Regions from separate parts of the Homo sapiens genome. Here region 2 is linked to region 1. The links come from fine-mapping of genetic effects on gene expression. Tissue or cell type: nasal epithelium. Region 1 holds a variant in brackets; the other region holds the start of a gene. All regions are shown on one strand. Distances are between the middles of the regions.

Region 1 (2,907 bases):
ACCATGCCCAGAATTATTGCATTTAAATAACAAAAAATTAAGTAATTATATATGCCTTTTAAAGTTAAATAGAATGGGAGTTTTGCTGCTATTCTCACTTAGAGCTTTAAAAGAAAGAAAATAAAATCTAAGGATAGGAACATTGTGCATCATTGAAACATTTATTAAAGAAAACAAAACTTCCCATTTTCTCATTTGTCACTCAGTTACTAAACATCTTTAGAGAAGTTAAGTTGCTGTTGTAGCTAGTTTATTATTGGGTCAGTTACTTTCCCACGGACTCAGCAGAAGTTCCAACTTGCTTTTGCCATTGACCAGGAAAAGTTACAAAAGTCTTGACTTTCATGAATCAGAACTGGTCTGGCTAGAATCAGCCTGCTCTGTAAAAGAAGAGACTGTGGTTTGGCCCATTTCCCAGGTGGGGAACCTCTGCTAGGTCTGGCAGACATGGAGGCAGAGAGGGAATATCCCCTTCCTGGGATAGCATTCTGACCCACCACATGTCCCCAAATGCTCCTGGTAAAGCAAGCCACCATTGCTTGTCATAACCCACATATTGGGGAGAGGCGCAATGAGGCTTGTATCATCAGTAGCTAAACCCCAGGATAGACAAGAGGAAGGTAGTTCCAGCTCCTGAGCCCAGTGGCTGTTTGAGGTGAGGACTGAGGGCCTCCTCCTTCACTCTGAACTTCCCCAACTGTGCGTTTCTGGCTAAGGCGAAATACTATCTCTTTCTCTTTTCAAATTATGAATGACTGTGTTTATTTTGGAGGGAGTTGATGAAACAATCAGGGAAAATGTTTCTTTTTCTTTTTTTTTTTGAGATGGAGTCTTGCTCTGTTGCCCCATCTAGAGTGCCATGGTGTGATTACAGCCCAGTGCAGCCTTGAGCTTTGAGGCTCAAGTGATCCTCCCACCTCAGCTTCCTGAGCAGCTGGGACCACAATTGCATGCCACCATCCCTGGCTAATTTCTTTTTTATTTTTTATAGAGACAGGGTCTCCCTATGTTGCCCAGGCTGGTCTTGAACTACTAGGTTCAAGCAATCCTCTCTCCTCGGCCATCAAAAGTGTTGGGATTACAGGCGTGAGCCACCACGCCTGGCTGAAAATATTTTGAATATGACAAATGTTGCTGGGTTTGCACTGCATAAGGAATGATGCCACAAATTGAGAACAGCCTCTTGTGAGTATAATATTCTTTCGAAGACCTTGCCTCCTCCCCTTCTTACACAGGGTGTTGCAGAAAAAGGCATTGGTATGTTTACTGAACACTTGAGAAAACTGGGGCTCAAGGAAAGTCAAGTGACCTGCCCACGATTGCCCAAGGACATCTGGCAGGGTGAGCTCCTATCCAGCCCACCTCTGACCATATGGCCTGGCTCACCATGAAGAGTGCTTTGGTGTCTTTTTTTTTTTGTTTTCCAAGAGTTGCCCTGA[C/T]GCTTGATTCTCATTTCTACTCATTAAGAAAAGCAACAGAAAGGAAAAAAAAAACAACACAAAAGAAAGAAAATCCTCACAAGGGAGGGCAAGTCTCAACGTGCCAGTCACGAGTGCTTCTGGCATATGTCTGTTTCCTTGTCCTTTCGACCTCCTGATCCTGAGCCCCAGCACGGTTAAGACAATTAACCCGACTTGTTTCTTCCTGTTTCCTCTCTCCCTTTTTTTTGCCTACAAGAGCCACTTACAAAAGTAATTTGAGTTTCTATGAAAGAGAATTTGAAACGCTGTTTTCAGTTTATGCTCAGAAGACAGTATGAGAGTTTGCCAATGACTGGATCATCTGAAAGTTAGTTCTTTCCAAATTTTCAAATATTCAGATGTGGCTAAGAAGAACACCAACATTCTCAGTGCGGAGATTTAAATGTGAAGAACAATGGTAGCCCAGCTTCATTCTCATTCATCACACCACTTTTAACCAACACTTGGGTGCATCACGCTGTGTGCTGAAGTGAATTTCTCTGCTACGTTTCTTGATGTCTCAAGAAAAGCCAGAAGCCACAGCTGGCTCAGCTTTCTACACTCTCCTGCGGCAGAACTGGCCCGGGCTCCCCAGCCCTGCTCAGACCACACAGAAGATACTGGACAGGATTTAGAGGGCTGTGGGGTGTTTGATGAACTATTCATTGTACATTTTTTACATTATGCTGTTAAAATTAGAAATATAAAATACAAAGTACTGTATATGAGCATAGATATTTAATATTAAGTTTATATTAAACTTCCAAATAACATTTTTCAATGTTTATAATTACTTATTTTGCTCATAGATATGAGCATACCTTTCTATTTTGGGGTGGGTTTTTTTTGTTTGAACTAGTCACCATCAGGTTCTGATCAAGACTTTAATGATCAGTTCTTCAACTTCCTGCTACTTACCATCGATAAGAAACTGTTTATACAAGTAGGTGATAAATTTTTTTATTTTTTAATGACCAAAAATTTTCAACAGTGTAAGTTATCTTTATAGGAGCTACAGCTTTTTTTCTTTCACGAATAAAATGTAATGGTGGCATTTTACAGATTCTTTTCAAACCCTCAGAACTTTTTTTTTTAATTTTTAGAGACACAGTCTCCCTCTGTCACCCAGGCTAGAGTGCAGTGGCACAATCACAGCTCATTGTAACCTCAAACTCCTGGGCTCAAGTGATCCTCCTGCCTCAGCCTCCAGAGTAGCTAGGACTACAGGCACACACCACCATTTCTGGCTAATTTTTTCTTGTAGATATAGGGTCTCACTATGTCGTCCAGGCTGGTCTTGAACTCCTGAGCTCAAGTGATCCTCCTGCCTTGCCTCCTGAAGTGTTGGGATTACAGTTGTGAATCCCCACATCTGGCCAGAACTTTTTCATATGGAGCATTTCACAGTAACAGAGGAGCCGGCTCACCCTGGAGATTGGGTGCCTGG
Region 2 (2,907 bases), 130 kb after region 1:
AAGTGCATCAGCGATCAAACTTGAAATCTGTTCATCACTCACTCCCCAAATAAGCTGTTCAAGCAGAATGAAACCGGCCTTCCTTGCCTCCACGTATCAGTCCAGCATCTTGTATTAAAATGCCTGGAACAAGCCGGGCGCGGTGGCTCACGACTGTAATCCCAGAACTTTGGGAGGCCAAGGAGAGCAGATCACGAGGTCAAGAGATCGAGACCATCCTGGCCAACATGGTGAAACCCCGTCTCTACTAAAAATACAAAAATTAGCCGGACGTGGTAGCGCGCGTCTATAGTCTCAGCTACTCGGGAGGCTGAGGCAGGAGAATCGCTTGAACCCGGGAGGCGGAGCCTGCAGTGAGCCGAGATCGCGCCGCGGCACTCCAGCCTGGGCGACAGGGCGAGACTCGGTCTCAAATTAAAAAAAAAAAAGCCTGTAACAACACTTCGCTGAATCCAGATAAACGTAAACGCTGCCGAGCACTGTAAGTTCTGTTCTGCCATAACAGGAGTGAAAAGAACGCTCCCCTTTTCCCACACTCTCTGGGTGCCCCTAAAAAGGGATACTAATAATGCCCGTAAGGGCCCATTGGGAGCAGCCAGGACTGCCGTCCCCCCCTGGCCCGTCGCTCGGCCTCAGTCTATCGCGGCTCCCGGACTGCGGCTCCGACTCCCGCAGCCCGTTCGTTCGCCCCGCGCCGGTCCCTCGGGAGACCGGATCTGTGGCCCCCGGGACTCCGGCCAGAGCGGGGCCCCACCATGCAACTCTAGTGGAAAGTTCTCGTCGCATCCCAGACCAGACCTGCTACCTACGTTCCACTCGTCGGAACTTCAGGACTTGCAGCGCGCCCGGCCGAGCTCGATTTCCTCCTCTGCGGTGAAGAGGGGAGCCTGCAACGCCGACCCCGACCCGGCTTCACCACGATGCGCACCCGCAAGCCAGGCTGGGTGCCCTCGGGACGCTTGAGGCGCCGCGGTCAGTGGACGGTAGGTTCGCCTACGCCCCCTCCTCTGGCACCGCAGTGGGTGGAGGGTGTTTGCAAACTTGTCCAGCAGCCAGGCGCGCCCCTGTGGACGCGCTCCCTCCCCAGAGGCCCCTGCTTCCTCCTGGGAGCCCCCACCCCCTCGCCTGGCCCCCAGCCGGGCGCACTCACCTCTACGCCAGAGCGCGGGGAGGAAGAGGCCCAGCAGCAGCGGCAGCGGGGCCGGCCCCATCCCGGGGCTGCGGATCTGTAATTTCTCTCCGGACGGATGGACAGATGGACGTCCCGAACCTGTCCTGTCGCCGGCCAAGCGCGCCAGCGAAGCTCCCTGTCCGGGCGGCCCGGGCAGTGAGTGCCGAGTGGCGGAGCCAAGCGGCCGGCGGGAGGTGCCGAGGGCTGGAAGGGGCGGGCCGGGGGCCGAGCCGAGGCCGGCCGGGGCTGGAGGAGAGGAGCGGGCAGGGGGGCGAGTCCCGGCGGGCCCAGCAGGTTGGGGTGGGAGGGGGCGGGAGGACGAGGGGGAGGAGGGGCGTAAAGGGGAAAGGGAGGGGGTTGGAGAGAAGGGGCGGGCCGAAGGCCGCCGCTGGGCAGACGGCGGGGAAGGGGGCGGAGAGGAAGGGGAGGGGGCTGAGAGACCCGGAGGGAGCCGGAAAGAGAAGTGAAGGGGAGGGGTGGACTGGAGGTCCACAGCGGAAGGCTCTGGCCGCTGCGCGGGTCCGGGGCCCCACACGTGTGGGTGGGAGATGGGGAAGGACAGAAGGTGGGAGAGGAGTAGAGGATGCCCGAGGCAGCCCCCAGACCCAAGAGGAGGGTCCAGAGGCGCCCCCGCATTCCGGGCTTGGCTGACACAGAAAACCCTGGCCGCGCCGCTCCCAGAGGCCAAGGCCAGGGCGGCAGCGCTCCCTGCCGAGCGCTCCTCCACATCCATTCCGCTCGCCGCCGAGCGCCGCCTGGGTACCCGGCCCGAGGTGCGCGACACGGCCCTGGCGGCGAGGAGCTCACCTCCCCAGGGGGAGGGGTTCCTGGGAAAGGACGCTTTGCCGTGGCTCCGTGACGAGCCAGAGAGAGGTGACACTCAAGGAGGGAGATGAACGTGAATGACAAAGTGCAGAGCAGGAGTGGGGAGAGGGGGAACCACAGCACGTCACTCTCATGGGCCTCCACAAGGTGTGCAGGGTCCAAGAGGCAGTAGCAGAGAGTGAGTCGTAAGAGAAATGTAACTACTTACGCTAATAATGGCAACAGTAACTTAATTTATATACGTAGTTTCTTAAAGGTAACACTTTTAGAATGAATGTATTTTAATGTGGTCCCTTTAACAACATAACATAAGCCAAATCATGTCCCTCTCCTCAAATCTCCCTAAACCTATCAGTGGTTCCTGCTGTCTCTGCGTACGTAAGCCAAGGTTCTGCAGTGGTCTACGAGGTTCTACGTGACCTGGTCCCCTTTCCTCTTTGGCCTCATCTCCTTACGCCTCTTCAATTTACGTTGGTCTCGTCAAGCGGTCCCTTGACCCCTACACTGGCTGGACACTTCCCGTAGATTTGGCTACGGGAAGGAGACAGGCAGCCCAGATGGGTTTAGACAGGTTATTACTTACACCGACAGCAAAAGCAAAATCAGTGTGGTGTCAGCTCCATGCATCCTTAGGCCTACAAGATAACACCAAACTGGAAGGGTCAGTGTTATCCTATGGGTCTACATAATTTAACAAAAATAAATAAATAAATAAATAAATAAATAAGACAACATGAGCCCTGCCGCTGAGTAGCCAAGTCTAAATTACACCAAGCAGTTTTATAGACTTCACAGGAGCCTGCCGCTGTATGCTTGGAGGGAAGCGGGCTGGGCGGTGGAGGGAGGGATATGGAAAGTCCTGCAGTCAACTGAAACGTTGGAGAAGGAAGAGAAATGGCCTTGCAGCAGTC

The links.
Region 2: it holds the start of MERTK, and the variant in region 1 is fine-mapped to the expression of MERTK in nasal epithelium (TOPMed, PIP above 0.99).

The regions. Positions count from the first base shown.
Region 1 is chr2:112,030,748-112,033,654 of GRCh38, reverse strand. No RefSeq gene overlaps it. Among named protein-coding and RNA genes, the nearest start is that of TMEM87B, 23 kb to the left of the region's middle. The variant C/T (reference allele first, on the strand shown) is at 1,440.
Region 2 is chr2:111,897,040-111,899,946 of GRCh38, reverse strand. MERTK (MER proto-oncogene, tyrosine kinase) reads right to left here and starts at 1,340. Exons shown (of 19, transcript NM_006343.3): 1 at 1,151-1,340. The coding sequence starts at 1,211. RefSeq lists an enhancer at 1,872-2,201.